Linked DNA regions of Homo sapiens: regions 2 and 3 are each linked to region 1. Evidence: fine-mapped expression QTL. A gene starts in region 1. Each other region holds a variant in brackets. All regions are shown on one strand. Distances are between the middles of the regions. Region 1 holds the start of ZNF277 (zinc finger protein 277). Region 2 overlaps ZNF277 (zinc finger protein 277). Region 3 overlaps ZNF277 (zinc finger protein 277).

Region 1 (10,433 bases):
AAGATGCCATGACTCATCTGTGAATCTGTGCATAAAAGCCTGTTGGACAAATGAACGCAAAAACAATCTGCAAAGGTCTTAGCTTTCTCCATGAATAATTCCCACCACTTTAAGGCGGGGTGGGGAGGGGGGAGGAATGGGGGGGTGTGCTAACAGATGAGGACATGCAGGAGGTAGAGGTAATCTGAGGAAATTGGTGAGTATGCGATCAAGAATGCTTTAGTCACCATTCTGTGCGATAGATCACTAAAGCATGTTCCCCCTGTCTCACCAAAACTTTGTACACTTTGATCATCATCTCCACTTTCCCCAACCACCCTCTTCCCCCAGACTCTGGCAACCATCACTTTAATCTCTATATTTATGAAGTAAACTTCTTTAGATTGCACATGTAAGCAAGATCATGCAGTACTTATCTTTCTGTGCCAGACTTACACTTACTTCATTTACTATAATACCCTCCACATTACTGAAAATGACAGGATTTTCCCCTTTTTCAAGACTATATAATATTCCATTGTGTATAGATACTACATTCTCTTTACCCATTCATCTGATGATGGACACTTAGGTTGCTTTCATATCTCAGACATTTTGAGAACTGCTTCAATGAACATGGGATAGCAGATATTTCTTCAGCATACTGATTTCAATTCCTGTGAATATATACCAAGCAGTGGAATTGTTGGATCATATGGTAATTCTATTTTTAGTTCATTGAAGGTCCTCCATGCTGTTTTACATAACAGCTGTATTAATTTACATTCCCACTAACATGTGCACAGCGTTCCCTTTTCTCTGCACTCTCACCAATACTTGTTACCTTTCATTGTTTTTATACAGCCATTCTAACAGATGGGAGGTGATATCCACAGAATGGAGATACAATAAATAACAATGCATTGTATACTTCAAAAGTGCTAGAATGGATTTTAAATGTTTTTTACACCACAAAAATGGTAATTATATGAGGTGTAATTTGTTAATAGCCTGATTAATCACTCCAACTGTAAACGTACATCAAAATATCACACTGTACACCATAAATATATACAGCTGGGTGAGAAGGTGCATGTCAGTAATCCCAGTTACTCAGGAGGCTGAGGTGGGAGTATTGCTTGAGGCGATCAACCAGGAGCTTGAGGCTACAGGCTATAGTGCACTATGATGGCGCCTATGAATAGCCACTGCACTCCAGCCTGGGCAACAGAGCAAAACCCTGTCTCTAAATTAAAAAAAAAAAAATGAAAACTTAAAAAATATATTATTATTATTTGTCAAGGAAAATACATTTAAAAAACAAACAAAATGCTTCAGTCACTGCCCATGGAGCTCCTACTAGCCAGAGAGAATCAAACAAATTGAGAAAGAGAGGAACCAGCACCTCAGTTCTGGCAGCTTGCCAGGTAGCGTTTGCTTACCTCTGATCTTACTTAAAAACCAAGTGAGATATGTCACAACAAAAGTGTCTCTGTCATAGCAGTCTCAACACAATGAAGATGTTTTTCTAACCAAAGAACACAGTTAGTTGGAAGAGCTCTACAAAATTAGTACCAGGGAAGGCTTTAGTTAACACTTGCCCCAGACGCTGGGACCCAGAAAGGCTAAGTGATTTACCTAAGGTTACACAGCTGGCAGCAGTGTCTAGCCCAGAATCAAGAGCTAACTAGAATCTCCTAAGGTGAAATTGCCTATCACTGTGCCTCTTAACATGATTTCTAAAAGACAAGGTTCCCTGTTCCTCAGAACTATAACTTCATCACTATACCTTTTCCTAAAATCAGAACACTTATGACTGACTTTTCGTTGTTTTAATGAATTTAATCATTCATTAAATGGGACGGTGCCTATACATCAGTTACGAAAAAGAATTTCCATCTCCGATACATTTAATTACAGATATAAAATTTAACTAATTTTACCCATGTTTACAGTATGCTGCTTAAAATTTAATCATAAGTATATAAAAGCATAATTATCTCATACATAAATGAGGGTATATAAAAAGTACCTTTGCAGAAATATATAATTTATACTAAAACGTCACATATTCTGTTACAAAGACTGATTTATTTCAAAGAATGAAGAAACTAAATTACCACTACACTTGGTAACAAAGATCTGTGCCCATAAGATCTTTTCTTTAACATCTGTAAGAACTACATGAGAAAAACACAAACATTAACCAAGGTTAAAAGAAAAAACAAACAACTTGCAATATAAGCAGCTATAAACAGTGCCCTCCATGGTGAAAAATAAAGTCCACACATAAGTATCCTAGCAAAAATTTCACTACACACACACACACACACACACACACACACACACACACACGCCTAACAGATGGATTCTAAAAAACAGCTAAGCATTCCACAATCCAAATGCTCAAAAATTAATAATAAAGGTTAATTAACATTCTGGCACATGTGATATTGAGAACAACAGCAGTAATTTGGGGCAAAAGACCCTCTCTCTGCTCTCGTCCTTCATCTCATTCAACCTCTTTTTCTCAATTGTGAGCACACCCTTCTGCCTCCCCTACTCTGCAATCAAATCACAACCACCCAAAACCGAGGTGTCTGCTGCAGCCCAAAACATTTGACTGATAATATCCGGTTTGCCATTCCAGGAAATCCCAGAGTGGTTTTTAAGCCTCTGCCCACCGCTTGTAAAGAAAGGCAAGAGAGGAACTAATCGATACCAGCACCCCAGCTGTGACCTGGCACATGAAGAAATCAAGAAAATAAATCCCATCCATAATCTGTATAATTTAACACTTGGAAGAAAGCAACATCTGGGATCGACTCCAAGCAGGACAGTTTTGCCTGGATGGATCTGAGCTTCCTGCACTGAGTGTTAAAGCCGCTTAGGAGGCGATGCCCTCGGGTCCCTCACCAGTCCAGCAAAGGGACTATCTTTTTCCCTAGCAAGGGTTAATCTACCTCCCAAAAAAGAGAAGAGTGAGGAGAACGAAAATAACAACTACTAACATCTACTCCTTGCCAGTAAAGAGGCTGGCAAAGACTCCTCTGACACTTTGAAGGAGGGAAAGCTGGAAACCTTTCCCAAAGGTGGGTTCAGGTCAAACTATTGTCTTGGTAATTAGTCACAATCCAGAATGGAAGCTAACGTGAAATGTGGGAATGATTTTGTTGAATCCTACAGTCCTTTCAATGGACCCCAAAGTCCTATCCCCAGGCAAAGTTGGGAAAAAAAAAAACAAAAATCCCCTCGGACTACGACTCCCTGGGAAGGCTTTCCAGATGTTTTAAATTGCAGGAAAATGAATTTAGAACATAAGCAGATATCTACACATCACCTAAATCACTAGACCTGTCCTCAATTTTAAAACACACACACACACACACACACACACAAAGTACACCAGTCGGCAGAACAGGGCATTATAGGAAATAAAGAGTGTTAGTAAAATCCATAATGCTTTCTGTTAGACCTTCTGGGAGGTTATAATTGCATTTGGCCGGCTGCAGCCTTGTCGGAGAGCCTGGCTTCTTAATAGTCTCAACCCTAAAAGGAGTAACTGTCAAGGGGCGACCCAGCTGAAATCAAACAACAAAAACGGGAACTGTAACCCGCCTGAAATGGGAGGAGGAAAAGGAAGGGAGACTCCTGTATTCATCAGTCAACATTAATGTCCTTTGTTGTTCACCTTTACACAGAACAGCGAGAGCTATCCTGTTCCTTTTTCTCCGAACGCCAGTGTCAGGGTATGCTTTCCTAAAAGCTATCTCCCTGCCCCCAAGAACCAGGCTTTCCGATCCCCCTCCCCATTTATCACTCAGCAGCCCTGTACCGCCACACCGCCCCCACTGCGCTCACCCGGGGTCGAGAGGGTGGCCAGAAGTAAAAACACTGCTGAAATACCCGTTCTTCTCCAAAGACCAAAGAACCGAGCGGCGCAGATGTTGAAATTTACCAATGCCCCCGCCCCGCAACATACACACCCCATAAATCCGGGATCGCAGAGAGGGAGGAGGGTCAGAGAGGGCTCAGCTTGTCAGAGCGGCTCTCTCCAGGACCCTGCCACATTCCACACTCCGGGAATGTCGATCCGAGCCAGAGGGAAGGGTTTGCGCCTCCCTACTGTTTTGGGGGTGTTCTCTCTGCCCGAGTGTTGTTGTCTCCCTCTCCACCCAGAGGAACCGTTGCAGCTCCCTGTCGCTTTGGGGAAGAAGGGTAAGGAAGGAGAGAAACCCCATTCGCCTCCTCTTCCAACTTGACACACACACACACACACACACACACGCCCAGTCGCCACTCCAAACTCCGCAGGCAGAGCCCGAAGCTAGCGGGCCGGCCGCGCGCTCCCCCAAGCTGTCCCGGCGCTTCGGGAACCAGTGCGGGGCGCGCCGAGCAGGCGGTGCGGGGCGAGAGCCTGGTGCGCAGCCCTCTGCCTGGAGCTGGCTCGGCAAAGCCCCGTACCAGCTGCGCGATGCCAGGATTAGGCATTTTCAACCGGGCGGAGCGAGAGGGGCGCGGGGGCAAGGACGAGAAATGCGCACTCGCTCGGGCCAGAGCAGAATAAAAGTTCGCCCCGCGGAGACTCACCCACGCCGTATTTCTCGTGCTCCGTAGGTATCCACATGGCTAAAGGGGCTCCGGGGTCTTCAGGCTTTGTAATCCCCGCGCCCCTTCTCCGGCTCACAACAATGCACAGTCCCCGAGCAGCGCTGCAGTGCCGGAGCCCAGCGGCTTCGCGCGGGCTGCGGGCGCTGGGCAGGATCTGCGCTGGAGGCTCCCGAGCCCAGCGTTGACACTGCGCCGCCCGCAGCTCTCCCGGCGGCGGCTGCTCACAGTCCTCCGACGCGCTCCCGGGTACCCGGCGGCGCAGTCATTGTTCTGATTCACTGAACTAAGCGAACACGCCGGGGCACTCTCCGGCGCACCCCCGCCCGCCAGCGCCTAGTCCAGCCCTCCCGTCCCAGGGCCCCGCAGCACGCTGGGAATTGTAGTTCTTGGCCTCCCCATCCCGGAAGTGGGCGCGGCAAATGTGGTTCGGGGCGGGGATTCAGTTTTACTGATTGCGTCCTATTGGTCCAGAGCGCGGCGTAGGTGTGGAGAAAACATTACGTCGACGGGGAGTTCGCCTCCAGTAGCGTTTCTACTGGTGCCACCCCGCCTCCGACCCGCCCTGCGGCCCTCCCTTTTCTTTTCTGCCGGGTAATGGCTGCTTCCAAGACCCAGGGGGCTGTCGCCCGAATGCAGGAAGACCGTGATGGGAGCTGCAGCACAGTCGGGGGTGTAGGTTATGGGGGTGAGTACGGTGCCCCGGAGGCGCGGCTGATGTGTCTTCCTTTCTCTATGACCGGGTGTGCAACGGACCTCTGGTCTGACCCTAGGAGCCCTTCAGCTCTGGGGCCACCTGGGTTCGACTGGGCCCCACGGGTGGTGGCCCAGCGGGATGGGTTGGAGCCGGTGGCGGCTACTTGGTTGGGGCTGCCCGGGGATGGCGGAGAAAATGCCATGGGATGGCGGAGAAAATGCCATGGAATGGCCTTCCCCTCCGCCGGGGAAGCTCCCTGAGCGTTTGTCTTCTGGTTTGGAGCTCCCAGCTTTGAGCTAGCTGCTGAGTGGGTTTGGTTCAGATCTGGTTCGCGCGCGTGTGTTTATAATTTTGGGATTAGCAGCTCTTTCTCCTCACCAGTACACTGCCTTGGTTTGCTTGGTTTGACCTCGCAGGTGTGTTTTATTTAGCTTCCGGAGTATTTCCAGTCGCAGACTGGTGGTCACTGCTCTCCACTCTACAGATTTGCCCAGTTTGTGGCTGAGGTGACCTCTGAAGGGAAAGTGTGTGTATCTCACAACCTCCCTGTAGATGGTTAACTGCTCTGGGTGTTCTTCAGATTTGTATGTGGAGCCTGAGAGATCTTCCCAGTCTCTGGGTCCTTAGAGAAAGAAAAGGAAAGTGATAGATAATTTGCACTCGTGGCTTCAAAGAACATTTGAAAAGAGTTTTGAAAACCATCACAACTTTGGCTGTACCTGACTTTCAGGTTGTCCTCTGATCCACTGTAGGAATAAAAAACCAAATTTTGAAAGCTGCAGGTGGATTGTGTTTAGGACTCTTTTACCTTTAGTCTATCCCTCCCCCATTCCCCCCACCCCATTTTTGTCTTGATGTGTAATTTAGCACAAGTTGTCTTTTTCTGATGAACATGGTTTGGGGCTTAAATATAGTTCTCAGACTGTTGCGACTTTGTTTTTCGATTTATTTGTTTTTGCTTTCACAGTTAAATTGATATCATCTTAAGTATTTACCTCAGCGGCACAGAGTTGAAGTGCAGTTTTTTCCCACTTCCCAACAGTGGAACTCCCTACTCTGAAATTATTTTAGTACCTCTACCAAACAAATCTTTGGTAGTCTCCTGAGTTAAATATTGAATTTAACACCCTAATGGTTTATTTTTGGGTTGGTTATATATTGGGCTATCTGATGGTAACAGACTATTACGGTTTCCTAGATTTTCAAAGTTCCAGAGGGCTACCAGTTTAAGATCTAAACTGGTGAATTTATCTCACAGTCTAACTTATTTTAAAAAATGGCCGGGCACGGTGGCTCACCCCTGTAATACCAGCACTTTGGGAGGCCGAGGCGAGTGGATCACAAGGTCAGGAGTTCGAGACCAGCCTGGCCAATATGGTGAAACCCCGTCTCTACTAAAAATACAAAAATTAGCCGGGCGTGGTGGCGGATGCCTGTAGTCCCAGCTACTCGGGAGGCCGAGGCAGGAGAATCCCTTGAGCCCGGGAGGCGGAGGTTGTGGTGAGCCATGATCCACCACTGCACTCCAGCCTGGGAGGCAGAGCAAGACTCTGTATCAAAAACAAAACAAAAAAAAAGGATATGCCTTTCAAAAATGTAAAATATTTAAAAATATTTATTTTTAAATTTTACAAGTTTAAAAGTTTTTAAAAGCACTTCAAACCATTCAGAAGTGTATGAAGTAAAAAAAATGAAAATTCCCTCACCTCACAGCACCACTCCCCGAGTATTAAGTGATAAGAGTTTGGTACATATTCTTTCCAACATATTCTTCTTCTTCTTTTTTTTTTTTTAATCCTACAATCCGTATTCTGTTAAACCACCATATTCTTATATGACACACGTCTGTATGATTTGATTTTTTTTTTTTTTTTTTTTTTTTGAGACGGAGTCTCGCTTTGTCAACCAGGCTGGAGTGCAGTGGCGCGATCTCGGCTCACTGCAAGCTCCGCCTCCCAGGTTCACGCCATTCTCCTGCCTCAGCCTCCCGAGTAACTGGGACTACAGGCGCCAGCCAACAAGCCCGGCTAGTTTTTTGTATTTTTAGTAGAGACGGGGTTTCACCGTGTTAGCCAGGAGGTCTCGATCTGCTGACCTCGTGATCCGCCCGTCTCGGCCTCCCAAAGTGCTGGGATTACAGGCGTAAGCCACCGCGCCCGGCCTATGATTTGATTTTTATAATAAAAAGGGATAAATCTATATAAACTGAAAGATCTGCAACCTTCTTTTTTCTTTCAGCAGTCTATCATAGAAACCCTTCCACGTCAGTACATTTGTTTCCTTTTTTTTTAAGGACTGTGCCCATCATATTCCAAAATATGATTGTGCCATTCTTTATCCATTCCCTTATAAATGAACATATAGTGTGACTTTAGTTTTTCAGTAATGTTGCAATGAACAACTTTATGTACATATATTCTTGCCCACTGGTTGTATATTTTGGGAGAAAATTGCTGGATCAAAGGTTATGCAAGTTTAAAATTTTGACAGATGCCAGACTTTCCTCTTAAAATATATTCAGCATACATTGCCACCTGTAGTATATGAGTGTTCTTTCCCCCATATTGTCACAAACTTTGAGGAAATAATCCAGGACCAATGTTTCAATGACTAGTAGATTGAATTAAGTAACTGATAGAAAGCTTAGTTTTTGATTCCAGTTTGTTTTCAATAAAAGTGTTGAGTAGTAGTGAATTTGCGGTATCTATAACATAAAAAAATTTCTCACCCTCGGTGAGAAATACCCAGTATTCTCATTGACTTGTAGCAGTCAACAGGAGAAATTAATGGTTGATTTTTTATGTCATTTTTATAAGATAAAGTTGTCATTAAAAATTCTGCTTAATAACCTATGTATCATTCTGTTACTTTTTCCAAAATCTTTTCAAAGCCAACAAGGTGTGATATAAATTTTAGGTGTAAATATTTATATTAAAAGTATATTTTTTGTTAGGCAGTCATTTAGGTTATCAAGTATGTCTTTCCCTGTAAAAATCATACACCTTTTTGGATGAGTTCATGTCCTTTGTAGGGACATGGATGAAGCTGAAAACCATCATTGTGAGCAAACTATCGCAAGGACAGAAAACCAAACACCACATGTTCTCACTTATAGGTGGAAATTGAACAATGAGAACACTTGGACACAGGGCAGGGAACATCACATACCCGGGCCTGTCGTGGGGTTGGGGGATGGGGAAGGGATAGCATTAGGAGAAATACCTAATGTAAATGACGAGTTAATGGGTGCAGCAAACCAATATGGCACATGTATACATATGCAACAAACCTCCAAGTTGTGCACATGTACCCTGGAACTTAAAGTATAATAAAAATAAAATTTTTAAAAAACATACACCTTTTTGACTTCTTGAAAACTGCTTCTTTTAAGAGATTTTCTTCTTGCTCTGATTAAAATGTTAGTCTGTGTGTTTAATACCCTGGGACAGTGAGGCCTAGGAAGACTTTTTATAGAAATCCTTGCAATTCCTCAAAATCTCTGCTAGAGTGAGTCAGTGGGTGGGGTGCAGGCAGGTGCAACACTCACTGAGACCACTGTGTTGCCAGACTTCTGTGGCTCCATCCTTCTCCAAGAAAGTCCCCACATTGAGGTCAAGGATTTTTTTGCTTTTTTTGTTTTTGTTTTTTGTTTTTTTTTTTTGTTTTTTTTTTTGAGACAGAGTCCTGCTCTGTAACCCAAGCTGGAGTGGAGTGGCACGATCTCAGCTCACTGCAACCTCCGCCTCCCGGGTTCAAGTGATTCTCCTGCCACAGCCTCCCGAGTAGCTGGGATTACAGGCGTGTGCCACCATGCCCAGCTAATTTTTATATTTTTAGTAGAGACAGAGTTTCGCCATCTAGGCCAGGCTGGTCTCAAACTCCTGACCACAGGTGATCCACCCTCCTCGGCCTCCCAAAGTGCTGGGATTACAGGCGTGAGCTACTGCACCTGGCACACTAGGTCAAGGGTTAAAGGACACTGCTTTACATACATCTGAACAGTAACCAGAATTTCAATTTGTCTCCTAAAATTAAGAACAGATAATAAATAGATTCAGCATCCCTCACGTGGTGTCATTGGCATTTGTTCTTTTGCTGTTTTTAAAAATCAGCAAGGTAGCACAATTCAGTAATAATACATTTAGGAGGCTTTTGTGACTGAGGCTATTTCTTCTGAGTATTAATCTGTATCTCCATATTGTAATATTCTGTCAAAGTCAACTTTTTTCCCTCCGAATGGGTGTTTAGTAGTTGATGATTTTGCTAATGCTTGGATTCTGGACCTTATTATCTGATGATTTTGGTAATGTTTATCTTCCAGAGAACTTACTATCTCATGTGTGATGTCTCTGGAAGAAAGAGGGAAGGGTAGCAGGTGATGTAAACTCCTCATTCTTGTATTTCCTATTTCAATAAATGGCATCAAGTCTAAGCTAGAAACCTAGGAAGCATCCTTGATTCCTAACTCGCCCTCAGGTACTGAATTTGATCAGTTAGCAAGCCTTATTTTTCTGCGCCTGTAGTATATTTTGAACCTGTTCCCTCTATTCATAGCTACAGCCACTGTGCTAATTCCATTACTAACCCTCACCATTACTGCTGAATTACCTACCTGCATCTCCCATGCCCCAGAAAGTGCTCTTGAGAACCAGTTGTATGTGTGTTTGTCAGCCTGATTCTGTTCTTGGCACATTGTTAATGTTTAATAAGTGTTTGACCAGAATGGAATTCTAGCCTGAACGATTGCAAAACCTTCCTGTTGATCTCACTGACTCTTGACTTTACCTCCTTTAATCCACATTGTAAAACAAATATATTCATGGATCTCCACTTGAAATCTTCAGTGTAATTCTGCTACATGTATAATTAGGTCCAAACTCTCTGTGTGGCATTTAAGATTCTAATCTACTTGTCTAGCCTCATCTTCAGTCACCCTGCTTCCTTTCCCATATCTCCATTATCCACTTACCATGTCACACTGTAGTTATTTTTTGGCAACTTTGTCTACCCCAGTGGACAGTGAACTTCTTGAGGTCAAGAGTTGCCTTATTTCACTTTTGTACATCCAGTGTTTATCAAAGCTGCATACAGTAAACATTGTATAACAGTCTAATGTTAGAATATGCTTGAAATTTATTCAAGGCATTTA
Region 2 (10,433 bases), 130 kb after region 1:
ACTAACAGAGTATAGGTAGAGAAAAATAAAGGCCAGTGTCTTCTCAGTATCATGTTAGTATTATTTCAGACCTCATTAAAGAATAATATTTAACGTGAAGAACATGAGTAATAAATCAATATGAAGAATAAATTCTAAAATTTTAAACAATGAATAATGACAATACTTTATTTAAAAAAAAAAAAGATAGATATTCCCTTGTTATCCCTCTGAGGGAAAAGGCTGACATGAGTGCATGAGTGTGGGCAAAAGATAGAATTGTTATATTAGTAGTGGGTTTATACATCTATTTTATTGACATCATACATTCTGCATACATTTGAGTGCCTTCCAGGTACCAGATGCTAGAAGAGAAAGAAAAAATATTGTAGATAGAAAGGCTGATTTGAGTCACTACTTTCAAAGAGTTCAGAAGTCAGTATGGAAAACCACCATGTAAGCACGTTAGTTTGAACCCTTTGTAATGGTATATGGAAAGTCAGCGTTCGACCTCTCCTATAGCAGATATATGCAGTCATTGAGTCATTCACACACAGAGCTCCTCACCTCCACTTCAAACGCCATAGACTCTGCCAGCGCAACAATGATGGGAACATCCAGGGTATCCGTAGCAAGATACACTCTAATAGGCAGCAGAAGTAGGAGAGCAAATGGACAGAGAGGCTGCATTTGGCTTTCTGAGCTCAGCAAATTGACAAGTTCCATTTTCCTTCTTAGGTGAGATAATTTCTGTGCTGAATCATTCATATCAGTTTCTGAATAGTAACAGACTTGCAAAAACATTAAAAGTCTTTTGCATAGTCTGAATTATCTACATCAAATTCTTGCTTTGTTTTCTCACAAACAAAAGAGTTCAACAGGTAGTGAGGATGGGTTGGGGATAAGGTGCCAGTTAGTTTCACATTCAGATAACCCTTCCTCAGAGGGCAACAGACTGTTTAACATCGAGGCTTCAGCTACATATTCCTACGATGCTCATGTTTCAAACCCTGAGTTTTTCTAAAGGGAATTGGTTTTGCTATGATTTTTATCATTCTTTGATTTAAATTTTTTTATTCTTAAAGTATACAAAGCCACTTATAACAAAAGTAAGCTTTTAACTGATTTTTCATAGTTTTTTATAGTTTTCTCTAGTGAAGTTATTTACACTTAAAACACTTCTCTTTCTGTTTCTGGTGGAGTTTTGTGTAAGCACATGTAAGTGTGTATGTATTAGGGCAGAAGTGTGATGGGTGAAGGGGATCTTTTTTTTCCATGTTTTTTTCCACCCTCTCATTATTCATGAGCCATCTGATGCAGGGGTTTGAGGGGGTGTCTGAACATCTTTAGTGATATGCCTTCCAAACTTTGTTTTTCTTACATTCTTTGCTTTCCTGACATGATTCATTAGCAGGCACAGTGTCTTAATTAGAGAGTTATGTGCTTTTTTTTTTTTTTTTGCTTTGGGTCTTGTTTCTATAATAAATCATATCTTTAACTGTACCAAATCAGAGCACTCTAGGAAACTGGGCCACTTTCACGTGCAAATTGCTTATTTCCTAATATACTGATAAACATGTACATTCATTTTCCTCTCAAGTGGGGTAAGTGGTTAATGCTGTGTGGCCTAGATAACTCTCTACATATTGTACTCAACACTGAGGAAGTTGCAAAATAATGCTTTGAGTTTAGAAGTTTAACAGTGAAAGATATTTTTTGTACTTTTGGCTCAAAATATTCATTGACAAGCAACATTTGCCCTTATCATTCAGAATGATCAAATCACAGAAGGCCCATACTTTAGTAATACCTTGCAGCAATAAAACCATGACCTTAAGTCCAAGTACAGAAAAACCAAGTAAGGCATGAAAGATTTAATTCATTACCAAACTTTCTAACAAGCATCTTGTTGGCAGTGTTGAGGCCATTTTTGGTGTTCTGTAATGAGATTCAGACACTTCATGATGACTCTGGGAAGTACATTATAGAGTCCAAATTAACCATCTCTAATGACATTATGATAGATCTCTGTATATCTAAATGTATGCATCATTTAGCTGATAATGACAGCTTCAAAACCTCTCATTAAGTTGATGAATAATGGATTTTCTTTCTCCCTCTAAATCATAATGGCACTCATAGTTCTTTGTTTTTAGCTAGATGAATACCTTTATTTGGGGGAAAAAGAGTCCATAATTGAGTGAATTTTGGTTTTGTTTTTCCAAAAGGATATTGAACAACAAAGCTATCCATGCTTGTAGCAGGTCAGGTGGGCCTGATCCTAACCATAGTTTAGCTGCTTGAAAACATATCCATTAATGTTCCTACCTCTCTCTTTGTGACATTGTCTGCTTTTGCATGGCACAATGGGAAGATTGGATAGAAAGAAGACAGGGCAAGAAGAGAGGAAGAAACGGCCCAAGGGGAACAAAAGAATTGGGCCAAAATAAATCATTCCTACTCATCACTCCATAAAGTTTTGCTAACGCTGTGACTAGGCTTGCCAGACATAGCGCCAAAAGAGTGGAACTTTTCCACTGATGGCAAAGGATAAAAGGGATTTGAGTAGGTACTAGAGCACCTACTCATGCCTAGTACTATTTCTTTATAGACAGTAACTCATTCATTTAATCACCTTAAAAAAACCTTTTGAGGTAGAATCTAAATTGACCTCAAGTGTATTTTTTTATTTTTTATTTCTAACAAATTGAATTCTACTTTCTAATTCAACTCAAAAAATAGTTTATAGTAATAGTACCCACTGTATGCCAGGCTCTGGAAATGTAACAATGAACAAAGGCCATTAGAATCCCAGATATTCTAATACTCATTCAGGGTTTAGAAACACTGGTTCAAATTTAAGAGAAAAGAACTTGACTGAAAGGATATTGCTGCTTCTCTAAAAAATTATCTCATTAAGGTTTCAACTTCATATTGCTTTTGCACTGTCATTAAGTCAAAAAAAAGTGTTGAATCAAACCATCATAAGTTGGGCCATCTGTATATCCTACTTGTACTGTTTCAAAACCATTTAAACATGGGTGGTTTTGTTTATTTTTTTGGTTTTGATTTTTTTCAAAGTTCTACATACTCTCTCCCTTCTCTTTCCCCCAATGTCTCTCATCCCTCTGTTCTTCCTACAAAGGAACTTGGAAAATCGTGGGAAGAAGTTCAGTTGGAAGATGATCGGGAGTTGCTGGACCATCAGGAAGAGTAAGAGTTGTTATTGCTGCTAATTAATTGCAGTGTTCCAAGAGTAAGAAGACAATGCTTTAGTTTGGTTTAAATTATGAAGCGGGAACATAAGAAGAAAAAAATACCTTCTCTGAGCCATGCATCCCTTCATGTAATGTGGCAAAAACTTGAATTCAAAATAACTTTGACATAAAAATTCCTAAAGACACTGTTATTCCAACTAAATTAAAGCTATTGATTGAACACACAAGTAATATATAATTCAGAGAAAAATACATTCCGAAGTGCTTTGCCTGCTCAGTTAGTGCTCAGACCTTGAAGTGATGTGATCTTTGAACTCTCCATGTTGCTGTCATTGGAATAGAGAATATAACTGCATTGAAGTTAATCCTGTTCTGTGTTCGGGCCATTGATGACTAACTTTAAACATTCACAGCTTCTTTGCTTGAAATTATAAGCTTGAGAAATGTTCTTTTCAACCTAAAAGGATTTCTTATTTTTCATCTTCTTTTCAGTCAAAGCTTTTTGGCCTTTTTTCTCTCTCAGGATTTTAAATTATTATTATTTTAATAGTGAGGTAAAGCCCAAAGGTAGAGAGCTGCCATTTGCTGAATTTTCTTGATGCATAGAGATTCAGGCAGAGAGTCTTCCAGACTGAAATAAAAACATCTTTCCCATTAAGACATACTAGTTGGAATATTTAATCAGTGAATGTTAAAGTTTTAATGACACAAAAGGTTATAAATAGTAAGTCATGACCTGGGCCGGGACTGGTGGCTCCCTCCTGGATGGATAGAGTTAAGGAAAATGTTTCCTGTTTTCTAATAGGGAAGCTTCTGTGTGAATTGGGTTAGGTTGATCTTGAGAGTCTTATCAGTGATCATTTCTGAGCTTGCCATGAAAAATTCTCTCATCTGAATTTGAATGGGTGTTCCTTGTCTCCACAACTCTTCCCTCCTGGCAGTTTTCCTGGTTTGGGAATGATAAGAAGTTGGTAGTATTTCAAAAAGGGAAATGCCAAGGAGCGGGGAAAGTGGTAAAAGGGATCCTGTATCCTTTTTGAGTTCCCTGTCTACCGCCAGATTTAACACTTGCCCAGTTTAAAATAATCAGTATTTCCCTCGTGAAAGAGACACGGTTTGCCTTTGTAAAATACACTATTTGTCATGCAGAAACACATTCCCGGCATCACACCTCACAGCGTGTGCACTCAGTGGTTGTGGTTAATGGGAGAGAGCATCACATTTTCTGATATGTCTCCTTTGCAAATTAAACCTCATTGTCTCAGGACGACATTCCTCTGACTGTAGACTGAGATAGCTACTCAGAAGAACGGCAAATAGGAGAAAATGGAACAGCACCTGTTCACTATGTATATTAATTTCATGGTGCTGCTTTGAATTTCAAAAGCTATATCAGAGAGTCATAATATGATGTGACAGTCTTTACCAAAATGTCAGAGTTGAAAGAGATTGGCAGGGTTTTTTAGTAAGGAGAAAGCAATACCAAGTCACTGTGTAGTATACTCTCTTAATGAAGGGAATCTCCGTATTTTCTCTCCTCTTTTTTAATTCAGTGACTGGTCTGATTGGGAAGAACACCCTGCCTCTGCAGTCTGCTTATTTTGTGAAAAGCAAGCAGAAACAATTGAGAAGTTGTATGTCCACATGGAGGTAAGATACCTGTATTTATTTGAATTTTGTTTTATTCTGACAGGGGAAAGCTAGTAATTGTTGCACCCTCATCTGCTTTTACTTCAGTTTCCCAATCATTATTCCAACCAGAAGAGACAGGCCAGGTCTGTCAGGGAGAACCAGAGCTCAGGGCAATTTAGTTAGTACAGTTGACTGGACCCGAGTGAGCTGTTTGTTAGTGTGAGATTTCTCAGACCACTGATGCCATCTCACCTTTGAGATGCTTACAAGATCATTCTAGCTCAGCAGGTGGGACAGGTTCTGAGTCTTTTTTCCAGTGCTTCTTGTGCTGGTGAATAGGAGAGCAAGAAGGGAGAACATTGCCATTTACAAAGGTCCCGGAGGAATAGGGAAAAAGGAGGGTGGGTAGAGAGGAGCTAGGGCATGATCCTACAGTTCCTTCAGGTGCCAGGATTTAGAGAGAAGAAACTAGGGAGCATTCCTAGTGTGGGCTTTCCCTTCTGGATGCCATTTTTATGTTATAGTGAAGCTTGGAGCTAGCAGTTCTAAACCTTTTTCACCCCAGTATACCTGAGAGAGGACACACACCCTGCACCTCTGATCCTTAGCTGCACAAGGCGGATAGGGAAGGGGAACATGTAATGATTCATGATAGTATCACAGCTTGTGGGCAGAGGGGTGATTATAATAGAAAAATATTACTGGATGATTCTGATATCTCTCCGTCCCCTCCCTGCAGCCACCTCTGCCAATAGTGGACCATATTCTCTACTTTCACCCACTTTCACCTCACCCTTATTCAGAAATACTGTTCTTAGTTTAGTAAAATAAGGGCCTAGAAAGCGCTCAAAAGACCATAAACATTTTCCTTGATTTTAGTTTCTCTGAAAAAGGTTCCCACTAGTATGTGTGTATAATTTCCTGTGTTTAGATTTAATTCATAATATCTTAATGTCTTTGTATTGAAGGCAGCCTTAGTATGCCTATCCTGTGTAA[G/A]GATTACCTTTTCGGCATCCTTGACAGGTGTCCTTAACCTCTGCTGGGTCACTTTCAGTGATAACATCACGAATTCCTAATCATCCTTCATATGGTGCTACACTAAATGCCATCCCAGTGAGTTAAATGGTCTTTATCATCTGTGAGATTGTAGGTTAAAACATTTACACAGACAATTGCAGGTGTCAAACAAACACGCAAAAAATAAGTGCATTGTAAAAATCAAAAGAAAGCGTGATTTATAGGAAGGTGTGAGTGAAGAGAAGCTTTGAGGTTTAAACAGTGTATTTGACAGCATAAAATGAAAAGCAGAATTTGTAAAAATTACCTATGTGGGGCAAAGAACCTATATCCATAATTCTAGTCCAAATGCACAGTACAATAGAAACATATCTTACCTACACTTTTATCACACTGCAGAATGCATACATAGACTTCTACATTTTTAGAAGGCTACAAAATGGATAACATTGTAAATTATAAAAACTATAGATATAAGCTATGAGCAATTATAATGTTGTTGCTGTTCTTTGATATGGAGTCTCGCTGTGTCACCCAGGCTGGAGTGCAGTGTCACGATCTCAGCTCACTGCAACCTCTGCCTGCTAGGTTCAAGCGATTCTCGTGCCTCAGCCTTCTGAGTAGCTGGGATTACAGGCACCCACCACCACACCCAGCCAATTTTTGTATTTTTAGTAGAGACGGGGTTTTGCCATGTTGGCCAGGCTGGTCTCAAACTCCTGACCTCGGGTGATCCGCCCACCTCGGTCTCCCAAAGTGCTGGGATTATAGGCGTGAGCCACCGCGCCCGGCCCAATTATAATGGTTTAACTGATTGACATGACTTGTTTGGACTATGCTGTAAAAAAGTTGGGTATGGAGGGAAGTAGTTAGACTTGGAAGACTTCAAAAGCAGAAGATACCGAACTCAGACTGAGTTTCTAAACTACTCAAACTCCTGTGAATAAGTTGTTTATAACTTCAGCCTGAAAGATTAAATAATTCATATGCTTACAGATGTATTCATTCCTTTTTTAGGATGCACACGAATTTGATCTTCTCAAAATAAAGTCAGAACTTGGTAAGTTTGATTCAGAGGTTTTTTTCTGTGATGCTTCATTTTTTATAAACCATCCTGTAAGCTATGCCTATGTTCAGTAGCTATGATTGGAGAGTGCACCACCAAAACATGTCTCTCTATAGATGGTCTTGACAGAACTCTCTGTGAAGCAGTGATGCTCAACCATAATAGTCAAATATGGTTTTTGGTTTCATATACTCCTTCTTTCTCTTTCCTACATATATGAGTGCTTCAAGTGAAATATAAGTTAGTGGTTAATAATATATCATAAATTGGAGGGGGCTAGTGGAATATGGATTTTTAAGTCAAACTAGAGTTCAGATTCCAGCTCTGGCACTTACTGGCTATGACATTGGGCCTCAGGTCAGAAAAATGTTATGAGGAGTGAATAATGTATGGTAAATGGCTACTGCACTGCTTAGCAGTATAGCTAGGATTGTTTGTTATAGGTGTACCCAATGTATCATTCTAAGTATCACAACAATAGAACGATTTGGGGCATTAAGACATACGTAAAGTACTGACTTGCTAATAGATCTAAGACAGTAAAAAACTTACTTCTCACAGCTCAGCTCAGTCACTGCTTTCCTAGGTCCTTGGATGTGTTACTTTGCTGCTTTTATAGACATATATATACATTGTTTATATAATTAGCTTAGTAGTCAAGCATGGGCTTTGCAGCTGACAGCTATCTATGCGATGCTAGGCAGTTTCCTAATATGTAATGTAGGTATGATACTACCTATCTGATAGGGTTTTATGAAGATTAAATGTATTAATACATGGAAAATTATTAGAATAGTGCCTAGCTCATAAGCCCTGTGTAAATATGTGCTGTTATTATTTGGTATCTATTATTATGCTTTATAATTGTACTGCCTCTTCAGGTTGATTAATAAAAATAAGTGGCTCCTTTAAGAAATTATAATAGTGCAAAAAATGGGTCTGAACAGTTGTCTAATGATTCTGTATTTTGTCATTTTCAGGATTAAATTTCTATCAGCAAGTGAAACTGGTCAATTTTATTCGGAGGCAAGTTCACCAATGCAGATGTTATGGCTGCCATGTGAAGTTCAAATCCAAAGCAGACTTAAGAACTCACATGGAAGAAACTAAACACACTTCGCTGCTCCCCGATAGAAAGACGTGGGATCAACTGGAGTACGTACTGCAAAACCAAATGTGCACTTCTTACTCCAACTCTTTGATTTTGTCCCTTTATTTAATTTCTTTAAGCCTACAGAAAAAAAAGGAATACATATTTATTATAAAAAGTATACATCAGTACAGTGTGGGGAAAAATGTAAAAATATTCAAAATGCTTATTTTTAAAATAATCCCCCTCTTACAAATGAAACCAAGTATTTTTCAGTATTTGTGATATGGAGATAGATACATATGTAGAGAGATGAAGTAGATACAGATTTTTTAAATTATATTTTATTAACAAAATATTGTAAATATCTTTCAATAGCCAGTATCCATCTGTTGCATCCTTTCTAATGGTTGCTAAATATCCATTGTATGGATATAATCTATTCTGCGAGATACTTAGGTTGTTTCTTACTTTTTGCTATTATAATGATACAGTGAATCTATATGCCTACATTTTAGCACACTTATCTAATTATTTAATTAAGCTGAACTCCTAGAAATAAAATTACTATGTCAGAGTTTGCACACTGCTAGGACTTTTTGTATATATTTTGTATATTGGCACTTGAAAAAATTAAGCAGTTGGTCATCTGTTGTTGGATTCCCATGTATCCTTTGCCAGAACTTTGTGGACTGGTTCCCAAGTATCCTTTGCCAAGAACCTTCTGGACTGGTTCTCACATCGTTCTGGATAACCTCAGTCGAGGGCTCCTCTGAGAGACTGTGGGGTTCTAGCTGCCCAGAGCTCCTTCTGTTCTTAGGGAATGTTAAGTCAGTTCCCCCAGAACTTTAACCAGAAAGTTCTAGTTTTTCTCCTTCAGAAAATCCCACACTTGTGAGGGTACCCTGTTTTTATGATCCTTCTTATATAAATTAAAATTTGTAATATTCCAAAAGTAACTTCAAAATGTATTCAGAGAAGGAACCAGAATAACAAACTTTATATTCCGTAAGTGTTTCCTTTTGTGATTACCTAGAAAGAAGGAACTATTAGGCTGGAAAACAAAACACAAGGAAGAGCTTATTATTCTCAATTATTTGAATAATTTGTGTTTGAAAAATTAACTATATTTGAAGTTTGTTAACTTATAAGGAAGAACTAGGACCTTTGAGTAGAAATGAGAAAGATGTCATTTTTAGCTTCACAGGAGGTGTATCAAACAACTAGATCTACCCACTACTGGGGTCAGCTACCTTCGAAGATAGTGTGTTTTGTTATCATGATAGATGATCAAGCAGAGGCTAAGTGGCCAGCGGACAACTCCAGAGGCAACTCTGGAGGGTGGGAGGTCCACGATCTTGGTTTACCAAATCTGGATAGTAGATTTGGTAAGGTTGATGTCAGCCAGTAAAAGTCAAAGTGAAAGCAATCAGAAGTTGTCTCCAGTATAGCCTTTGCAAAATGCTATGAAATTGTTGGCAAGGATACCTGACAAAATTATAGTAAATGTGTACATTCAGCTACCTGGACACTGTATTAGCTTGGTAATTTAATACTATGTATCTGTGGTTGTTTTCAGGTATTATTTTCCAACCTATGAAAATGACACTCTCCTGTGTACACTATCTGACAGTGAAAGTGACCTGACAGCTCAGGAACAAAATGAAAATGTTCCCATCATCAGTGAAGATACATCTAAACTGTATGCTTTGAAACAAAGCAGTATTTTGAACCAGTTGCTACTATAAGAGTACTTGAAAACCTAGAAGAAACTACCACAGAAGCAATTTTTCATGTTTTTCTCCTATGAGACAGATATGAAAGAACAATTTAAATTTGAACATCAACAAAAGATTGGTCCTTGGTGAAATAAACTTTTCAAAAATGAATGTTCTTTTCAAAAAATAAAGTAGAAAAATGCACTTACTAAGAACATGAAAAAAAATGAAGTAGGAAAATAAGATGAAGACTTTGTATTTTGGCTGTAAAGTTTTATTGTGTGATCATCTTAAATTATCTCACTTCATTAAACTCATAATTATATATAGAAGTATATGTCAATTACAAAGAAATGAAATGTTCAAATTATTTATAAACCTGATTTTTCAATCAGTAGTTTCAGTCTCCTCCCCAAGGACCTTCTTCATCCAACAAGTTGCAAAATTTGAATATCCCTTCTGTACTATATTGGGTGAGCTGTAAATGTAATGACTAAAAGAAAAGCCACAGAAGAAAGAAGAAATGGTCAAAGACGTGGATAATATGCAAATTGGCCATTATATTAGAACAATCAAGAGCTGACTGTGTTATTACCACTTTCTGCCTAGGGTGGCCAAATTCCCTAGAAATAGACATCAAGCCAGTTAACTTCACTTTTCCCTGCAATTTGTATGTCACTAACATTTAAATGCCATTTTTTAAAAACATAACC
Region 3 (10,433 bases), 82 kb after region 1:
ACAAAGTAGCTTATAAATGTATATATATAACTTCACAGCACCAAATATACATACTAAAGAAGAAACAGTTGGAGAAATGCCATTTGGTACAGGGAGCAGAACAGCATAGTGTTTGAGTTTAGGCTCAACTCAGAATGTTTAGGCTACTGACTAACATTGTGACTTTGGGAACTTAGTTAAGTTTTCTAAATCTTGATTCTCTCATCTGGAAGATTGGATTATGGTAGTACTACTGAATAAGATAGTTAGAATTAATTAGGAAAATGTCCTAACACACCTTGCAGGTAATTTGCAAATAGCAAGTAGCTGATAAATGTTAGTTGTGCTGTTGATTATTATTAATACCATAGGCTTGTTTTCAGCAGTCAAACCAATAAATTTCTGTATATCTCAATTAAATCTGTGGAAAGGATGTAATATAGTACTTGTTATTTCCTACATGGCAGGTAATAATTACTAATGTTACCTTTATTTAGAATATGCTGCCTTTTGTAGCTATATACTAGTGGATGTAAAATACTATCATAGAGTTTCATAAGTATATTACTTATCTCTCTTCCTCCATTCTGTTTTTCACATTTGAGTTTAAATGCCTATGAAAGTTAACCTACTACTAAAAAATATAACCTACAACTGAAGAACTGTAGAATTCCAGAACTCCTTGATTTCATTACCTAATTTAATAAATATAGTAATTGATAACACCAGTTTTGTTAATAGTGCTTCTAAAGGGCTTATGTATTTTAAATATTCTCCGTACTGTCATGTATATCCTATGTGTTTTCACCTTCTCTGATATTAATTTTGTGAACAAAAATAAACAGTTTGATTTAGCATACTTTAATGTGACTAGAGTATGTTTGGGTGATGTATTAGAGACCCTCTTCTATGGGACACCTTCCTTCTCCAGCTCAGTTAAGTGACTCCCCCAACCGCTGCTGCTGTAAACCCTGTACATTCTCCATTTCTTTATATTTTTAACTTACTTGTACCTTCAAACAGACTGTGAGCACTTTAACCTTGGTAGCACTGAACATCATGCAACATCGAACATCCCTGTAGATAGTCAGTTGATTTTTGTTAAGTGAATGAATGAATGCTGCCCTCTTACATTGCTTATATAATTTCTTTTTTTTCTTTTTGAGACAGAGTCACGCTCTGTCACCAGGCTGGAGTGCAGTGGCATGATCTCTGCTCACTGAAACCTCCACCACCTGGGTTCAAGCAATTCTCCTACCTCAGCCTCCCAAGTAGCTAGGACTACAGGTGTGCACCACCACGCCCAGCTTATTTTTGTATTTTTTTAGTAGAGACACGGTTTCACCATGCTGGCCAGGATGGTCTTGATCTCTTGACCTTGTGATCTGCCCGCCTCTGCCTCCCAAAGTGCTGGGATTACAGGCTTGAGCCACCACACTTACATAATTCTTAAGCCATGGTCACCAGTGTACCAGTGACTGATTCAATTAATTCATAAATTAAGAATGCCTTTAAAAAGAAGATAAAGTAAGAAAAAAAAAATAGGAAATTTTTTTTTTTTTTTTTTGGAATGATGTCTAGCCCTGTCACCCAGGCTAGAGTGCAGTGGCGCCATCTCAGCTTACTGCAACCTTCACTTCCCAGGTTCAAGCAAGTCTCCTGCCTCAGCCTCCCGAGTAGTTGGGATGACAGGCACACACTACCACACTTGGCTAATTTTTTGTATTTTTAGTAGAGACGGGGTTTTACCATGTTGGCCAGGCTGGTCTCAAACTCCTAACCTCATGATCCGCCCACCTCGGCCTCCCAAAGCTCTGGGATTACAGATGTGAGCCACCGCACTTACATAATTCTCAAGCCATGGTCACCAGTGTACCAGTGACTGATTCAATTAATTCATAAATTAAGAAAACCTTTAAAAAGAAGATAAAGTAAGGGAAAAAAATAGGAAACTTTAACGGGAGAACTAATATTAACCTAATTCTGAAAACTTGTCTGTGGCTTAGTTTTTGTGTCTTTCTTTCTGAAGAAGGTTCTCTTCTTTCTGAAGGTTGCCTGACTTTCTGCAAATGCCAGAGGCCTTACCCTAGTTTCTTTACCCCAGTTTCCTGATTACTAACTACTAAATAGCCTGTATAAGGTGACAGGTGTAGACGTCCACTCTGGCAGACTAAAGGGGGCTACTGTCACGACTGGCTGTGGTTTTAGGCTCTGAAATGAGAGACATAGACTTTACACATACTTCAGCTCTTAAAGATGCTGTAGAAGATGTTAGGAAGAGGAATAATATAGCCAGGAAAAATGTTTACCACATCACATATGTCTAGTGATCGAGCAGTCATCTATTTGTTCACAGAAGCCTGAATTGTAATGCATACTTGTGTAATAGGCAAATGATAAACATAAGTCAACATAGAAAATTGCCATGAGGGCCACCCAGCACATACTGTGTCTACCCAGCGTGAGAGCTTTGTTCTTGTTTGTGACAAATAATCAGAAACAGGAAAGAGTTTGCAGATGCGACAGGAAGCAACTTAACAGACAGGCCTGGCATCATCTGTCGCCTTAATGTATACCATTTATTCCCTTGGTGTGATGATTCTTAGCCATAGGTCACAATTGAGCCTTAGAACCTTAACCCAGAGTGTTGCAGCCTTCCCCCTTGCAAGTACCCCGGGAATTGCTGCCATTGGCCAGTGTCCAAGAAGAAGGCTTGAACAGCTGCCCTGACAAATGGGTTTCCCCCATTCAAGCAAGCAAATGAGGGGTTTGAGCTGCTTTGCAATACTCCCTGCCTCTGGGCTACAAACACTGTTTAAAATGATAATAAAGTATCCTACTCTCCAGCACTATGTATTTTTCTTTTTGGAGACATGTAAATATCTTTAGGATCTTTTTAATGCAGGAGGTGGGAAATCATCCATATGAAGAGTTGGTTTCAGCTTTTCTTTCTTTCTTTTTTTTTTTTTTTTTTTGGTCTATTCCAGACAGTAAGGATTGTATCCTGGAGCCGCTTTCCCTGCCAGAAAGTCCAGGTGGCACCACCACTTTAGAAGGTTCTCCATCTGTGCCTTGTATTTTCTGTGAAGAACATTTTCCTGTGGCTGAACAAGACAAACTTCTGAAGCACATGATTATTGAGCATAAGATTGTCATAGCTGATGTCAAGTTGGTTGCTGATTTCCAAAGGTAAGTTCTGTTTTTGTCCTTAAAAGAATTAAATTTGACCATGTGTGGTGGCTCATGTCTGTAATCCTAGTACTTTGGGAGGCCAAAGTGGGAGGATCACCCGAGGCCAGTAGTAGTTCAAGATGCCAGCTCTAAAAACAAAATTTAAAAATTATCTAGGATCAATGGCATGCACCTGTAGTTCCAGCTACTTGGGAGGTTGAGGCAGGAGGGCTGCTTGCACCCATGAGTTCGAGGCTGCAGTGAGTTATGGTTATACCATTGCACTCCAGCCTGGGTGACAGAATGAGACCCTGTCTCTTAAGAAAGAGAATTAAATGTATTGTTTGTTAAAGGAGTGACATAATCTATATATAAAATAATTCCCATACAAATATGAAAATTCATATTCATTTTCAGGTTTCTCCTTAGACTTAAAAAAAAAAACTTTACAACTCTTTTGTACTTCTGAGACTTTTTTTTTTTTTTTGAGATGGAGTTTTGCTATTGTCACCCAGGCTGGAGTGCAGTGGCACGATCTCAGCTTGTTGCAACTTCTGCCTCCCATGTTCAAGCGATTCTCCTGCCTCAGCCTCCTGAGTAGCTGGGATTACAGGCACCTGCCACCACGCCCAGCTAATTTTTGTATTCTTAGTAGAGATGGGGTTTCACCATGTTGGCCAGGCCTGTCTCGAACTCCTGAGCTCAGGTGATCTGCCCACCTCAGCCTCCCACAGTGCTGGGATTACAGGCATGAGCCACTGCACCCAGCCAACTTCTCAGACTTTAAAAAAATCTTTACATTATTTTTCTTGAGTCTGTAAGTTTGAGAATGTCACATACTAATTTATTTTCTATAAGTTCTCTAAAGAGATGAACTTTCCAAAGAGTAGATAATACTCACTTTGCAGCATTCCATGACATTGTAGATCTTATTGATGTCTCCCAGATTATGTCTCATGTTTTAGGCCATAGACATTCTCTGAGTGGGTCCTTCCAGTAATTCCAGAATAGACTTGGCAACAGGACACTCAAAAGGCAGTGTTTGGGAATGGGATCCTTGGAGACTTTCAAGCCAAAAGGATATTGCCCAAACAAATCTCAGTTTAAATGTTGTGATGAGGTTGATTCCTTTTTTCCCAATTTATAATTTCTGGAAGTAGTTGTCCAAGAGAAATACCTTCCCTGTATAGTTACTGAAAGCATAAAATTTGGTGTATCTGGTAAGGTCCCATTTTGAGGTATTCTGTCCTGATTTCCCCATAAAACATTGTAGTAGCCCAGACATTGAATACCCCTGCATCTAAACTCTGTTTCTCCCAGGCCATATAAAACATTCCTAGCAAACAGCTTCTTTCTTATGATAGGTCTTGCAAAAGAGCAAGCTGTATTATTAAGAGCTGACTATGAAAGTAGGAAAGCCTGGGGTTGAGTGCAGGCTTTCACACTTCCTAATCTTGTGATTTCCTGCCAAGCTACCTAACTACTCTAAGCATTGATTTTCTCATCTATAAAATGGGGGTAACACCAGCCCTCATGGTTATTGAATATTACATAAAACAAAGTATGGAATGTGAGGGCGATCTGGCTGTGACATCTGTCACCCCATTAATCGCCAGGGTTGATTCGGCTGATCTGGCTGGCTAAGTGGCTGTCCCCTTCCTCCCTCACCACTCCATGTTCATGCCTCCCAAAGCTGTGTTCTCAGTCAAAGAGGACAACCATCTC[CACTAGAAGAGGACCAGT/C]CTTTGGTCAAGGGTATACGAGTAGCTGCGCTTCCCTGCTGGAACCTCCAGACAAGCTCTCAAGTCCATTTGTAGGAGAACATAGGGTAGTCAAGCTTCCAAGATTCCAGACACATCCAAATGAAGTGCTGCATGTGGCAGTCTGCCTTTCTTAAAAAAAAAAAAAAAAAAAAAAAAAAAAGAAGAGTATGTGTAGCATCTGCTAGTGCCTGAGACATGTGTACCTGATAAATGGTAGATAAAATGCAAAATTTTATTTGTATTTTTATCACCGAAGGTATATTTGAAATCTTAGTTTTCTGCAGCTATCGTTTGAGTTTTCCATTTGTATTTATGCTAATCTAAAAACCTAATTATCATTTGTAAAATATAGCTTTTGAGAAAATTTCATTCAAGTTTCTAAATAATCTAAATTTTTGGAAAGATAGTTTAAGTTGGAATAGCCAGCATACCCACAGGGGTAATGATAACTATTCTCTAGCCTTCATCTCTGTCCTTATTGCCTAGCACCAATACTGAATATTTACCATGTGCCTTCTGTGTATGTTGCCTTATATCGACTCAGCACTACTATTTTTCAAGAGATTTTGGTGCTGCCTTATCAGGTCTCAGAGATAGGAGGACAGTTAATTGAATGATATATATTGCCAACTGCTAAAATAAACTAATTCCCTACATGCTCTCATAGGACATACTCTCTGCTCCTCATTATCATTTGTTATTCTTTATTCTCATTAAAATATATGTGTGTGTATGTCTTTATTCTCAGAGTATTCTGGGAGCTTTCTTATATGCAACCCAGTTATATGTGGTGAGATCTGTTGATTTTGTTTCAGACACTTCTTAGGCTAGAGATCTTCTAATTCATACTCAACCATTGAAAGAAATACTACATAGGTTATTCTTTCCTAAGGCTTCTATTAGTCAGCTTTTCTTTAATATGAAACCTTTATTTTTCTTTTTGAGTCCTGGCTGGAGTGCAGTGGCACGACCTTGGCTCAGTACAACCTCCACCTCCCTGGCTCAAGCAATCCTTCCACCTCAGCCTCCCCAAGTAGCTGGGACTACAGGCATGCACCACTACGCCTGGCTAATTTTTTTTTTTTCTTATACTTTAAGTTTTAGGGTACATGTGCACATTGTGCAGGTTAGTTACACACGTATACATGTGCCATGCTGGTGCGCTGCACCTAATTTTTTATGTTTTTAAATTTTTATGGTTTCACCATGTTGCCCAGGCTGGTCTAGAACTCCTGGGCTCAAGCAATCCACCCACCTCGGCCTCCTGAAGTGTTGGGATTACAGGTGTGAGCCACCGTGCCTAGCCATGAAACTGTTCTTTTATTCCCTTTTATCATATAAACACAAATTTTCCTTCAGGAATTGCAGAAGAACAGTATTAACTACCAGTGATAATTGAATAGTTTAAGATTTTTCTTTCTCCTCTGCCCGTAAAGTATGTGAGGAATGTCTGAATCAGAGTTTGTATTCTCCTTTGTGCTTATGTGTCATAGTTAAGTAGCTATATTTGTACTAATCAATCTCTCTATTTGTATCATTGTTATTAATCTCATTATCCTAATATGCATACGTGGGCAGAAAAATTGAATTATTTACTAGGTCTCGGGACTTAGGAGTCAGTAATTAAATGCTGGGATTATTCATGCTCTAAATGCAGATATACAATAAAATGGATGCTTTAATTAAAAAGAAAAGGATGCATATCTGATATAAGTGCTTTCTAAAGTGTATCTTTAACATGTATTTGAAATATGGAAACCTAGATTTTCCTTGTCAACTGTCCTTCTAATTAAGTAAAATTTTCACTCTCAGCAAGTATAAATGTGATTAATTCTGATTGATCAGGCATGTATCTGAGTAAACTCTGTTGCTTTTAAATACCTTTGACTGTATCCAGTCTTCTTTAGATAATAACCTCCTACTACTTAAGGAAACTAAAAATTCCTCTCCCAAACAATCCAGGTATTGATTGTTATGATCAAAGTTAAGTTGGAATCTTTTCAACATCATGTAACTTGTTTCTAATTTTAGAAGACAAGGTATAAGGTGTAGGGTTGGGAGGAGGGAACATGAGAGATTTATTTGGCATGAACACATTCACTCAGAACTCAAGAGGAATTGTTGCTTCTGAGTACAATAGATAATGAAGATGATAATAAATAAGAGATGGACTTACCTTGTGGTTTACAAGAAGTAAGCTATAAGTTTTCATACTAAATATATAATTTTTTATGAAACAAAATAACACTAAAACTTCCTGGGGCAGGAGAAATAAAAACAAAAATAAAAATCTTTCCATTGAGTCCATTTAACATAGTTATTTATACTGAGCTATTTGCTAGCTTTATTCAGTAGATAAAATTGCTCTGGAAAATAAATGTTAACTTCTTATTTCTTACCCTTTTCTATATTAAATTCCACACATTCACTGCTACTTAATTAACAACCATATTTCAAACCTTTATGACTATGTCAATAACCATACCAATTACAGTGAGGGTGGGCAGGCAAGATATTGCAACAAGGATTTTTTGTGAGACAATTCTGTGAGACATGATTTGAAGTTCCTTTGGAAGAAAAAAAGTATTTGCTGATGACCTAGTAATTACTTTTATAGATTTTTAATGAAGTATGAAATACTTTGATAACTCATCCAAATAGAGTTCCTACCACATGTTATTTCTTAGTGGCCTTTATATATTGAGTAGCTGCAATTGTAGCTTTCAGTAAACTAGAGAAGTAGGAAAAATACAGAAGAGAAGTACTAAATGAGCTCTTAAATTTGAACAGTGTTCTAGTGAGTGGGAAAAAATGCCACAAGAAGCATGTACTGAAGATCTGCTATCTTTATTCTATCACTCAGTTGATTACAATTTATCTGAATGCCCATACCATCCGAAAGGAAATGTATATATTGACACCTCTTAATTATAAGCTTAAAAACCACTATTATGTGTTTAATAACTAGGATGTTTCTTTACTCAAATTTAGACATAGGTCAAATGTATGTTGTTGTTGTTGTCTATAGTATACCACAGTAAGATATGATGCCTAATTTTATATGTTTAAGTTGTATGATGGTTTATGGTTATATTTTGCTTTGTAACAGATGATTTTTTTTTCTTTGATGTTGTTGTCACCCAAGTTTTGGTTAGGAAGAGAACACTCAAATGACAACTTTGTTCCTCTTGGACCAACCTATTACCTGCTTTATCCCATGGGAAACACTTCCTATTTGAGGAGGGCAACCGAGGTTCTGCCAGGCAGAATCTCCCCATGATTCTAAGTTAATTGATGTCAGTAATTTCTTCCCATGTGCATATCACCTTGAAGTAAACTCTGATGGAAAGTAAGCATGTCATGTGATTCTTCTCTTCAGACATCAAAGAGACAGTACTCAAACATAGAAGTTTTTGGAAACTGAGACCCACTGACTATTGGAATCAGGCTCCTGTTACCTCTGTAGTGGAACTTCTCTGCACCCTTTCCTTGCCTAGTTAAGCAGTTCCAAAACAGCCCCAAACAGTTGGTGTCAATTTTCAGCCCTTAGGTAGCAACTTAGGAGCAGTTCAGACTGAGGGCTACTGTTAAGTAGTATGCCTTTCGGAAGGGGAAAACATTCTCTTCCTCTTCAGACTTCATTTCTGTACTTCTGGTTCTGCCTTGTCAAAAAGCATTCTATGTGACCTCATTGGTCTCTGAGGGGAAAAAAATGCTTCAACTCTCTATTACAACTTTAATTATAGGGGCTCTTTCCTGTCCCTGCCTTCCCTTTTCTGCATTTCTTGTACCGATTCGTCCCCACATGACACTAGAGGAACTGTGTTGTAGAAGATTGAGTTTGGCCTTGGAGCCAGAGAGACAAAGTTCACATCTCAATTCTAACATTTTAATTGACCTTGGGCAAGTAAGGACTCATTAAATGGTAGCTGCTAATAATTGTCATTATTGTCACTATCATCATTCTTCTCTTCTACCACTTTAGCCACCTATATGTGCCCTCTGACGCTATTAATATAACTATTTTGTCTTTTTCATCAAATGTTTGCTGAAATGTTGTTGTTGTTTTTGTTGTGTGTCTCATTATTTCCCTGGGATAAATATAAATTATTCACTACCTTAGTCTTATTTAAATATGTTACTTTTTCTTATAGTAATAACTGTCATATATATTAAACACCCAGAATTTTGGACAGCGTGCTTTACATGCATTATTCTATTTAATTATCAACAATTTATTTTGCACATGAATAAACTGAGTTTCAGAAAGATTAAATAACTTTAAGTTCAGGTTCATACCTTTGAATTCAAAGTCCTTGCTTCTCTATTCACCATTGCCTCCGGGGTGGTAATTAATACATTAACTATGATACTTTGACCACTGTCTTAATTTAAAAAGCAAAACTGCTTCTAGCATAAGATCTGTGCAGATAAGCAAGGGACAATATTGATTGTCCATTTAAAAAAAAGTCATTGGCCAGGCACAGTGGCTCTCACCTGTAATCCCAGCACTTTGGGAGTCCAAGACGGGCAGATTGCTTGAGCTCACAAGTTCAAGACTAGCCTGGGCAACATGGCAAAACCCCATCTCTACAAAAAAAATAGGAAAATTAGTTGGGCATGGTGGTGCGTGCCTATAGTCCCAGCTACTCGGGAGGCTGAGGTGGGGAGGATGTCTTCAGCCCAGGAGGCAGAGGTTGCAGAGAGCTGAGATCACTCCACTGCACTCCAGCCTGGGCAATAGAGCCAGATCTTATCTCAAAAAAAAAAAAAAAAAGTCATTAATAATTCAAAGAGCAGTCTGTTCACGAGGATCCAAGCTCTTGCCTGGTCATCTGTTCCACATGGTTTCACACAGATACTTTTCTAAGACTGTGAACATTTTCCAAAGTAAAGTAGTCTGTGTATTCAAGGAGTTATCACTGCCTTTCAACAGGCTCTAGACCCAAAATGGAACTAATTATATAGGGCTGACCACTAGTCTCCGTTTTGTCTAGAGGATACCATCCAGATAGTCCTCAATGGAGTGGCAACCAGGACTGACGATCCACTCCTTGGTGTATTCTAGCAGTAGCAGTAGGGAACCTCCAGAGGGAACTTGGCCTTCCTGTCTTTTGAAGTCAGTTATCTTAGCACCTGGTTCTGCCATGTATAAATTTGATTAATCATGAAAATAGATGTCTATATTTCAATTTAGAGGAATAATCCATCTTCTGTTCTAACATCTCTAATACAGGTTCTACTGTGTTCCTTCATCCCTGTCACCACTTTGTAATAGAAAATGTGCTTGGGGGAGAATAAGAAAAGGACTAGGAATGTCATTTTTATTCTCTTAAGCCTCCTCTTGTCTTCTCTTTCCCCTTTTTTCCTCTCTACCATGGGGTGGTGGGGAAAGCAACTAGTGAGGAATGGAAAGATAGAGACTAGGAGTAGCCATGTAGGAGACTGAGGAGTACAACGTGTTGAAGCTGGCCCAGGATGGCTAAGGAAATAATGTCCCAGCCTTTTGTAGGTACTTTT

The links. PIP is the estimated chance that this variant, and not a neighbour inherited with it, causes the effect.
Region 2: its variant is fine-mapped to the expression of ZNF277 in nasal epithelium (TOPMed, PIP above 0.99).
Region 3: its variant is fine-mapped to the expression of ZNF277 in whole blood (TOPMed, PIP above 0.99).

Annotation. Positions count from the first base shown.
Region 1 is chr7:112,201,533-112,211,965 of GRCh38, forward strand. ZNF277 (zinc finger protein 277) reads left to right here and starts at 5,163. Exons shown (of 12, transcript NM_021994.3): 1 at 5,163-5,275. The coding sequence starts at 5,185. DOCK4 (dedicator of cytokinesis 4) reads right to left here and starts at 4,867. Exons shown (of 53, transcript NM_001363540.2): 1 at 4,570-4,867. The coding sequence starts at 4,606. RefSeq lists a silencer at 4,739-5,088 and an enhancer at 5,259-5,378.
Region 2 is chr7:112,332,980-112,343,412 of GRCh38, forward strand. It overlaps ZNF277 (zinc finger protein 277), which reads left to right. Exons shown (of 12, transcript NM_021994.3): 8 at 3,125-3,192; 9 at 4,751-4,847; 10 at 6,864-6,906; 11 at 7,893-8,067; 12 at 9,582-10,433. The coding sequence ends at 9,750. It overlaps ZNF277-AS1 (ZNF277 antisense RNA 1), which reads right to left. Exons shown (of 3, transcript NR_186626.1): 2 at 8,076-8,143. Among named protein-coding and RNA genes, the nearest start is that of ZNF277-AS1, 12 kb to the right of the region's middle. The variant G/A (reference allele first, on the strand shown) is at 5,826.
Region 3 is chr7:112,283,907-112,294,339 of GRCh38, forward strand. It overlaps ZNF277 (zinc finger protein 277), which reads left to right. Exons shown (of 12, transcript NM_021994.3): 2 at 2,967-3,168. It also overlaps the pseudogene RN7SKP187. Among named protein-coding and RNA genes, the nearest start is that of ZNF277-AS1, 61 kb to the right of the region's middle. The variant CACTAGAAGAGGACCAGT/C (reference allele first, on the strand shown) is at 4,876.